2 separate regions of the Homo sapiens genome follow, and region 1 is linked to region 2. A link means that fine-mapping ties the variant in region 2 to the expression of a gene that starts in the linked region. Tissue or cell type: whole blood. Region 2 holds a variant in brackets; the other region holds the start of a gene. All regions are shown on one strand. Distances are between the middles of the regions.

The links. PIP is the estimated chance that this variant, and not a neighbour inherited with it, causes the effect.
Region 1: AKIRIN2 starts here. The variant in region 2 is fine-mapped to the expression of AKIRIN2 in whole blood (TOPMed, PIP above 0.99).

The regions. Positions count from the first base shown.
Region 1 is chr6:87,699,767-87,705,147 of GRCh38, forward strand. It overlaps AKIRIN2 (akirin 2), which reads right to left and starts at 2,467. Exons shown (of 5, transcript NM_018064.4): 1 at 1,684-2,467. The coding sequence starts at 1,918. RefSeq lists silencers at 1,639-1,848, 2,029-2,198 and enhancers at 2,359-2,418, 2,729-3,038.
Region 2 is chr6:87,739,081-87,744,461 of GRCh38, forward strand. No RefSeq gene overlaps it. Among named protein-coding and RNA genes, the nearest start is that of AKIRIN2, 40 kb to the left of the region's middle. RefSeq lists an enhancer at 3,179-3,328. The variant G/A (reference allele first, on the strand shown) is at 3,257.

The sequences.
Region 1 (5,381 bases), 39 kb before region 2:
ACATGGTATAGTCCCCAATTGTTCACATACATGCCCAAGATTATTTTGACATTGAGATATAGTACTTTAATTCCCAAACCTAGCACTGTATTAATTCACTCCCTCGACTGAAATGTATTGCTGGTTAGCTCCTTAATGACCTTATTTTGAAATGGCTTTATTAGTTAAGTACAGAATCCATTTCAATTTCCAATGATACCATTTCACTAAAAGACAAATTCCAAAAATGTCAACCACCAGTAGCTCATTCTTGACATTGGCTGTTTCCTTTTTTTTTTCCCAAAGTAAAGCCTAACAATTAATCAACAAATGCCTTTTCAATCTAATTAAAACACAGTTTAGTAAGGTCATTAAATAAATTTATCTAAGAATTTCCGTAAAAACTCACTACAACTCTAAAACAGTATGTCCTTAAATTAGACCAAATATTTAATAGCAAAAATGGTAGCTTGCATATTCGAGGGTCACTCCATGGATTTAGAAAATATTTTTAAATGTGACAAAAAAAAAAAAACACTAAAGTCAGTTTCAAATGGAAGTCACCAAATACAGAGGTATATACTTCGGTTTTTTAAGCTACTGATAACGAGACATTTAAATCAAGCTATGGAAAGGCTTTGTCTAAAGGGTGATATTATTACTAAAGGCTCACACAGAAATCTTTGCATGCTACACACAAAGGAAACATTTACACTTCTAGTCCACAAAAGCCTATCCTAGGATTGTGCCAGGGGCACACAAGGATTTCAAAGTACAGAAAAAACTGGGCATACACATGCCCTACAAAGCAGCCAAAAGACATTCCCCAGTCTCTCTCAGGAAATGTTTCAAGATGAAAAGCAAAAGTCTGAAGTCCCTTGGAATCTTGGGTTGATTTCTTCATTATTCTCAAGGCTAGGTTGTTTTCCCCCAGCATACTTTGTTGGGCAAAAATAAAACATTTCCAAATAAAAGCAACTCCTCAGCCCCAATTTTCAATGCAATATGCTTATTAAAAGTTCAACATTTCTCAAGGTCTAGACTTATAGTGTGATCATATTACAGTACTCGGGAAGAGCATTTTCTTTGTTGTTGACCCTGCTAGGGAAACAGGTCTTGACTCAGCCAAAGTGGCGTTCTTGTGGGTGATTAATGACAGGCCTAGATCTCGCCCTAGTGACATCCATCCCCCACCCCCCACCCCCACTATACTAAAATCAGCCGTGTCTGAACTGAAGGAGGGGCTGTAGCCTCGCCTCAAACCACCCAGTCCCAGAGTTAATAGCTGCAACCAATCGATTACGGCAAGCACACATCCAGATTGGGGTGAAATGTGACCCTTTCGCCTAAATTTACGAATAATATCGTCCTCTCTGATCATTTCCGCTGGGGCTCCAGCGACTACGGAAACAATTCCAATCATTCGGCCCAAAGAAAAAGATGTCCCTGTTCTACCCAATACGGGCAAGGCAAAGCCCCTACCCACCTCCAAACACTATCCCCTTGACATCAGCCCATTTCTATTGTGTCTTATTAGGTCCTCGGGCTACGAGGACCTAGTGAAAAACGTGGCTGCCCTACTACTTTGCTAAGAACAAGAACCACACAGTCCGGCACCCCCACCCCAGGGGCCGCATCCCACACCCCAGGACCCCTGTTCCCAGTTCTCTCCACTACCCCGGCGGCCGCGGGGCCGGGTCCCACCTGTGGTGAGGCGGGAGGAGACGTCGCCGAAGGGGGATGGCTCCATTCGGAGATACTTCTGCGGCGAGGCGGCCGCAGCGGAGAAGGAGGCGGCGGTGGCCGCGGCCGCCGACAACGGGGAGGCAGCGGCCGAGGTGGGCGCCGACAATGGCGCACATCGCCTGCGCTTCGGGGACGCCGGGCTCAACAGCGGGTCGAAATCCAGAGTCCTTTTCAGAGTGGCTCCGCACGCCATGGCCGGGGGCAGCTGAGGCGCCGGGCTCGGGTGGGGTCGGGGACGGGTGACGAAAGAAGAGGGTGAGGGAAGGGGTGAAGAGCGGGAACTCGAGGAGAGCCTACCCGACGGGCTCAGGAGCCAAGCGGGTCGCGGAGCGCCGGCTGTGGAAAGGAGAGCCGCTGCCGCCGCTGCCTCCGCGGCAGGGGCAGTGGCCAGGGACGGCCCGGGTGAGAGCGGGAGGGGCGGTGGCGGGCAGAAGCACACGCCAGTCGCGTCAGGGGGGTTCTTCCGCCTCCTCAGGCGCGGCTCCCCCGAGAGAGGCTCCGGCCGCCCCCGCCGTCCGCTCGAGCTTTGCGCCGCGCCTGAGGCGCTTCTGTGCTGAGACTAGATCCTTTCTGAAGTCGAAAACAGCACCGTGGGGTGTGAGGCTGGAACGCGGCTCCTAATACGCCCGAGTACGGTCAGTAGCTTGCGAGCGGCGATCGATGCAGAGAGATTGCGAGGTAGCTGCCGCAGCAGGAACCCAAGCGAACACGTCCAACCGCTTCCCCTCCCTCGTAGAACTCTCCCACCCGCCGCCGGCCCCAATATGGCGTCAATAACAACGCCGCCGATTCAAATCCGGCGGCCTCAGAGCGCTTGCGCACGGGGGCGGGCCAAACCGGGGATGCATTTTGGGAGTTGTAGTTTTTAGGTACCGGGAGGAATCGGCTTGAAAGGCGGGAAGGGAGGAGTCACAGAAACTACGACTTCCGTCATGCAAGGCGCGCGATTCCGAGTTCCGGGTTGGAATTTAAATCCCCCTACACAGCTTGAGTGTAAGAGGAACTAAGCAAAAGAGAAAAAAAGAGAAGGTTCTGAGACAGTGGGAGATGGGAAAGCGAACCCGTGGCAAAAGCAGGCTAAGCGACATAGAAATCTTTTAAGATTCTCCGTATAGTTGCTCCCACAGTGATTTCAGATCTGGGAAATATAATAAACCAATCTCTAGTCAAAGTTAGCTTAATTTCGGTAGCGACAGTACCCAAAACAAGACCTTTCACATGGAGAGGATAGGAGATAATGAGATTATGAAACCTATTTAGGACTGGCAGACAGAACAACAGTAATAGTATCAGGTTACAGGATCCTTGATTCAACTCGATGCTCTACCCTTCGGAGGTAGCTGCTTCATCCACTAATGAAATTCTGTAAAGCCAGCTTTGCTTCTGTAAATGAATAGGACTTGAACGACTTACAGAATCAAATTGTTTTGCGTTGGGTAAAAAGCAAGTGGTATCAGACATTGCATTACTTCTGTTGAATATTGGTGCATATATTGTGAACTTTGTTACAAAACTAATCAAAAGACAGTGAAATGTTTAGGTAATAGATATTGGATGGATCCATTTTGTAAGCGGAAGGGGAAAAAAGTGTTTCTAGAAGTTGTACTTTTAGTCACATACCTAAAATAAGAATCAAATACAGCGCTAATTTAGAAAGTGATCTGTGTAGCCGGGCATGGTGACTCACGCCTGTTATCCCAGCACTTTGGGAGGCCGAGGCAGGCGGATCTTCCTGAGGTCAGGAGTTCGAGACCAGCCTGGTCAAAATGGTGAAACCCCGTCTCTACTAAAAATACAAAATTAGCCGAGCGTGGTGGCGCGCGCCTGTAGTCGCAGCTACTCGGGAGGCTAAGACAGGAGAATCATTTGAACCCGGGAGGCGAAGGTTGCAGTGAGCCGAGATGTTGCCACTGCACTCCAGCCTGGGTGATAGAGCGAGTCTCTGTCTGAAAAAAATGAAAAGAAAAGAAAATGATGCCGGGCGCGGTGGCTAACGCCTGTAATCCCAGCACTGGGAGGCCGAGGCAGGCGGATCACGAGGTCAGGAGTTCGAGACCAGCCTGTTCAACATGGTGATACCCTGTCTCTACTAAAAATAAAAAAAATTAGCCGGGCGTGGTGGCGCACACCTATAGTCCCAGCTACTCAGGAGGCTGAGGCAGAAGAATCGCTTGAACCCGGGAGGCGGAGGTTGCAGTGAGCCAAGATCAAGCTACTGCACTCCAGCCTGGGTGACAGAGCTAGACTTCGTCTCAAAAAAAAAAAAAAAAAAAAAAAGTGATATATGTAGAAACTATCACCAGTGCAATATGAAACAATTTTGTGAATGCCAACTGTCAAATGATTATAAATACTGATTTCCAGTGCTCATGTATTCTTCTTTATTCAGTAACAGATGTTTTATAGCCATTTTGTCTATTATTTTTAAACCATATTTAGAAGTAGTTCAATATATTCTTTTTTATAGACAATTTTATAGAATTGTCCAGTGCTTCAGAGATCAGCAGTCCTGATCACACTGTGTCAACAAGTAAGCCCTTCTAGTTTTAATTTAGGATATTTGGAAATATCCTACATTTCCTACATTTGGAAAATCTTTTGAAAAAGATAAGCATTTAATGAAACAGCAGCTTAACTAAGACACCTACTAGGTAAATTTCTAGTAAATTCTAAACACTTGGTAATATTTTCTGAAATTAAGATTTGCCCATAAGTTATAAAACCTACATTTGAAATGTGATGTTGTGAGTTAAATTCCCTATGTTTGAGGGAATTCAAGGACTTCAAAATTCATATGAAGTCCTAACCTCCAGTACCTTAGAATATGACTTTACTTAGGAATAGGATTATTTCAAATGTAATTAGCTAAATGTAGTAGGATGGGCCCCTAATCCAATATGACTGGTATTCTTATACAAAAAAGGAAATTTGGGCCAGGTGCGGTGGCTCACACCTGTAATCCCAGCACTTTGGAAGGCCGAGGTGGGAGGATCACTTGAGGCCAGGAGTTTGAGGCTAGCCTGGGCAATGATAAGAAACCTCATCTCTACAAAAATTTTTAAAAAATTAACTAGGCATGGTGGTGGTCACCTGTGGTCCCAGCTACTCGGGGCAGCTGAGGTGAGAGGATTGCATGAGCCCAGAAGGTTGAGGCTGCAGTAAGCTGTAATCACACCACCACACTCCGGCCAGGGTGTCATAGCCAGACCCTGTCTCAAAAAAAAAAAAAAAAAAAAGAAAAGAAAAAAAGGCCAGGGTGAAGGGGAGACTGGGTGGGGGTGGGAATTTGAACCCAGGCATGGGCCCAAGGGAATTTTGACCCACATGAACATGAACATGAAAATAGAGATTAGGGTGATGCTTCTACAAGCCAAGGAATGCCAAAGATTGCCAGCAAAACACCAGAAGCTAGGAGAGAAGTTGTTCTCCCTCAGTCCTCAGAAGGAACCAACCCTGAAAACACCTTCTCAGAGTTGTATTCTCTAGACCATGAGACAATAAATTTCTGTAGGTTAAGCCATCCAGTTTGTGGTACTTTGTTATGGCAACTGTAAGAAACTAATACAGAGAGGATTGTGGTTATCAGGCTATCATTTGAAATATACCAGAATGCCTAGAAAATGAGGAAAGTATTTTTTTGTTTAATTGTGGAGACA
Region 2 (5,381 bases):
ACCTAGCTACTAGTTTCCCTCTTTCTTCTGCTGAGATAGTGCTTACACCCAAGGCGCTGATTCTGTTTCTGATTCTTAGCCACTGGGCAAGATTTACTACTTGGATTCAACTTATGAATGAACATATTTCAATCTTATAGTGATTTTAATATTTCTTTATCGTTAGTAAGAACTTAAAAATCATGAGGATATAATGTTATTAGTGATAAATTTTATTTTACTTTTTTGGAACCAGAACTGCCAGATGAGGATTCTATTTTTTTATTTTTTTTATTTTCATTGTTTTGAGACAGAATCTGGCTCTGTGGCTCAGGCTGGAGTGCAGCGGTGTGATCTCAGCTCACTCCAACCTCCACCTTCAGAGTTCAAGTGATTCTTGTGCCTCAGCCTCCCGAGTAGCTGGGATTATAGGTGTGTGCCACCATGCCCAGATAATTTTTGTATTTTTAGTAGAGACGAGTTTTCACCATGTTGGCCAGGCTGGTCTCGAACTCCTGGACTCAAGTGATCAGCCCACCTCAGCCTCCCAAAGTGCTGGGATTACAGACGTGAGCCTATAAACTGAACCACACCCGGTTCAGTTAAAAATTTTAGAACAGGATTTGTAAATTTCCTAACTACATGCATATGACATTCACCTACTGCAATGACAGCAATAACATTTCTTTTTTTCCTTTTTTCTTTTTTCTTTTTTTTTTTTTTTTTTTGAGACAGTCTTGCTCTGTCGCCAGGCTGGAATGCAATGGCGCGATCTCAGCTCACTGCAATCTCCGCCTCCCAGGTTCAAGCGATTCTCCTGCCCCAGCCTTCTGAGTAGCTGGGATTACAAGCGCACTCCACTACACCCAGCTAATTTTTGTATTTTTACTAGAGATGGAGTTTCACTGTGTTAGCCAGGATGGTCTCGATCTCCTGACCTCATGATCCGCCCACCTCGGCCTCCCAAAGCGCTGGTATTACAGGCGTGAGCCACTGTACCCGGCCAACATTTCTTTTTAACTAGTGGATAAAATATGAAATTAAAAGGAAAAGTCTGTATCTAAGGTAATATATATTTTAAGGTTTTTCCTATGATCATTTAAAAATTGGCTTCTCTGGTTTAGATCCCAGTTTGGAAAATCAGATATAAAAGACATTTTGGGAATTGGGAGAAAATTTGAACATGGACTGAATGTTAGGTGATATTAAGGGGTTAGTATTAATTTTGTTCAGTGAGATAATATTATTTTAGCTATGAAGGAAAATGTTTTTACATTTTAATGACATATGCTAAAGTATTTATGGGTGGGATATTACTATGTCTCCAATTTGTGATGGCAAAAGATCACTCCTTAGATGGCTTGGCAGTCACTCTGAAGGGGAAAAACACAACTTTACAGGGTGAAATCTGGGAGTTACCACCTAAACCCAGTGACCAATTTTGGCATCACCAAAAGAGAGACACTAAATTATGTACCTCTTGATATACATAAATACATATATACATATGATACATGTGAGTTACATACATATATATATGTATGTATGAAGTACAGCCTTGTGTCTGTATTTGTATCAGCCTTGTATCTGTACAGCCTTGTATCTGAAGTATTGCTGCCAAGATGTTTAATCTACATTTTTTTTTTTGAGACAGGGTCTCACTCTGCGCCCAGGCTGGAATGCAGTGGCATGATCTTGGCTCACTGCAACTCTGCCTCCCGGGTTCAAGCGATTCTCCTGTCTCAGCCTCCCAAGTAGCTGGGATTACAGGCACCTCCCACCACTCCTGGCTAATTTTTATATTTTTAGTAGAGATGGGGTTTTGCCATGTTGGCCAGGCTGGTCTCGAACTCCTGACCTCAGGTGATCCGCCCACCTCAGCCTCCCAAAATGTTGGGATTACAAGCGTGAGCCACTGCACCCGGCCGACAAATAGTCTTAAAATGGGAATACTTGGCCGACAAATAGTCTTAAAACGGGAATATCTGGCCGGGCGTGATGGCTCACGCCATCTCATAAAACAAAACAAAAAAGAAACTGGAATACCTAATATAAAGGTTTTACTACACAAGAGGAAGGGGAAGATAGCTACAATCAGTATTTTATGAGCACTTACCACACGCTAGGCACCATGCCACGTGTTGGAGATACTGCAATCAACAAGTGGCCCCTGCATAGTGGAATGTACTGTCTGGAGTGAAAGACAGACAAAAACATGCAAACAGACAAATAACACAAATAACATGAGTTTGGAGAGTAATTCCTCTGATGGAAGAAACAAACAAGCACTACGGAGAAGAACAACAGTTGTGATGGTCAGAAAAGGGATCTCCTTGAAGGCACATGCAGGCTGTGTCTTATAAGAGAAGCAGGAGTCAGCCAGAGGGAAGGTAAAGAGAAGAGCTATCTAAACAGAAGCAGCTGTGTGCACAGAACTCCTGGGGGGGAGATGGAATAAGGAAAGCCAATGTGATTCAGGTGTAGTGAGCAAGGAGGACTGTGACACAGGGTGAACTAGAGAAGTAGCTTTCAGGTCACGGCAAAAAATTTAATTTTTTTCCCCCAAAGTGCAGTGAGTAGCCATATTCCACAATATTCTTTTTTTTTTCTTTTCTTTTGTAGAGATGGGGTGTCATTATGTTTCCCAGGCCTGTTTTGAATTCCTGGTCTCAAATGATCCTCCTGCCTTGGCCTCACAAAGTGCTGGAATTACAGGCATGAGCCACTGCACCTGGCCAACGATATTCATTAATTTAAGGAAATTCCACTTTTAAGAATACTTAGGGCATTTGCTAATACACTAAAAGCTTAAGAGTCACAACTACATGTCTTACACTCCAGCCATACTCAACCACTCACTGGGACCCTTTCAGTTCTATTTGGATGCCTCCCACCTGCCAATAGAGCAAATTGATACTCATCTGGGGTATTAGGAATCTATTGCTGTATAACAAATTATCCCAAAAGGTAGTGATCTAAACCAATGATAAACATTTATTACCTCACAGTTTCTGGGGTTGGGAATTCTGAGTGGCTTAGCTGTATGGTTCTAGTTCATGGTCTCACATGCAGTTGCAGTCAAGATGTTGGCTGAGGCTGCAGTCATCCAAAGACCTGACTGGGACTGGAGGAGCCACTTCCAAGATGGCTCACCCACGTGGCTGTTGTGGGCAGGAGGCCTTACTTTCTTGCCATGTAGTCATCTTCATAGATCTGCTTGAGTGTCCTCGTGACATGGCAGCTGACTTCCTTCACAGTGAGTGATCCAAGGAAGAGA[G/A]TAAACAGGAAACCATAATGCTGCTGATAACCTCATCTTTGAAGTACACTGTCACTTCTGCCATTTTCTATTAGTGTCACTAGTAGACAGCACAAAGAAGTTGACACCAAGTGCTGTGGCTCATGCCTGTAATCCCAGCACTTTGGTAGGCCAAGGCAGGCAGATCATCTGAGGTCAGGAGTTCGAGACCAGCCTGGCCAACACAGTGAAACCCCGTCTCTACTGAAAATACAAAAACTAGCCGAACATGGTGGTGGGTGCCTGTAATCCCAGCTACTTGGGAGGCTGAGTGTCACTAAGTCCAGTCCACACTCAAAGGGAGGGGAGTTAAGTTCCACCTCTTGAAAGGAGAAGTATCTAAAAATTTGTGAACATATTTTAAAACTACCACATTTGGTGACCCAGCTCAAATGTCATCTTCTATGTGAAGCCTTTCTTGATTTTCCTGAGCAGACCTAGTCATTCTCTTCTCTCAGTTTTCACAGCATGTCATTTCTATTCCTTAAAGCTCTTGTCTTTTTAACTGTAATCAATTGATTTACATGCTTGTCTTTCAACTAGCCTGGAAGATGCTTCAGGCCAAGATAATGTGTTTTATTAATCATTTGTATCCTCAATCTGCTCATTAGTGAAATCCTAGGAACACTACGAAATACTACCTTCCACCACTCCTAACACAAGTTTTTAAAAGATCCCTTCGCACTTAATGCTTTTCTTGCTTTTTCATATTCTTGGTTTACTCTCCCTCTCCCTTCTGAACTAGAAGACAATTTCAAAAATAAGACTGTATTAGTTATCATTTTTAAAAATTCTTTATAATGACAAAGACAATGCTCTGCATTACAGTAATAGATTTTTAAAAGAATTAAATAAGAGAAGCCCCTTTAGAGTTAAAAAAATATTTCTAACTTCTTTAATAATCAGAATATCTAATGGCTATCTCGGTTCTATGTAAACCCTAACAAGAAAAAGATAACCTCAGTTCATAATGCATAAAACATGCAGCACTGAGAAAAAAGACCTCTGAAGTACAGGGGTGTTCTATTCTGTTTTGTTTGCTTCCTTATTGTTTGGGAGAGGAGACAGCTAACAATGAAGCTTTCTTTAGCATTCAGTGGAAAGAACGTCAAGAAATCTTGTTTTTATTTTCTCTTGAAAAATGAGAAGCCATATTCCCTCCCATAGTTACAAAGTATCATCCTGTCCTTGATCTCTGTTTCTAGAATGTTCTCAATTCAGATGGTTTTTATCTAGATTCAGTTGGAGGCCTGGATGGCCTTGGTTCTGATAACTAGAAATCTTGTGACAATCTCAGAAGTCTTCTGGGGCAGATTTCTTTGGTTTTGGGACAAGATTTGACCAGCCCTGAATCTGTGACAGGTCTGGGAGGGGCAGGGGAAGAAATGAGCAGAACCTGGAACAAGGTCTACACCTCCGCCCCCTTACAACTTGACTAGGAAGTTCTTTCTGATGGTCCCTCATTCAAGAGTCAAGATTACTACACATTAAAATTTTAAAAAGACAATGGAAGAGCTCCCAGCAAAATAGCCTATGTGGCAGTTTAGAGGGTGACTTTCTTCTCAAAAAGAGAAAGTGGATGTAAACCAACTCTTCTCCTTTCTTTCTCTGACCTGTAAAGGCAGAACTGCCTGGACAGGACAAAAATGCCTGATTTTACTGAACAATCCTATTTCTTTCTCTTCTTTTCTCTTTCTTTCTTTCCTTCCTTCCTTTCTTTCTTTCTTTTTTTTCAAGACAGAGTTTCGCTCTTGTTGCCCAGGCTACAGTGCAATGGCACGATCTCGGCTCACTGCAAACTCCATCTCCCGGGTTCAAGCGATTCTTCTGCCTCAGCCTCCCGAGTAGCTGGGATCACAGGCGTGCAGCACCACACCCAGCTAAGTTGTATTTTTAGTAGAGACAGGGTTTCTCCATGTTAGTCAGGCTGGTCTTGAACTTCCGACCTCAGGTGATCCACCCACTTCGGCCTCCCAAAGTGCTGGGATTACAGGCATGAGCCACTGTGCCCGGCCATGGACGATCCTATTTCTTTTTTTCTTTTTTTATTTTATTTTTTGAGACAGAGTATTGCTCTGTCACCCAGGCTGGAGTACAGTGGTGCGAT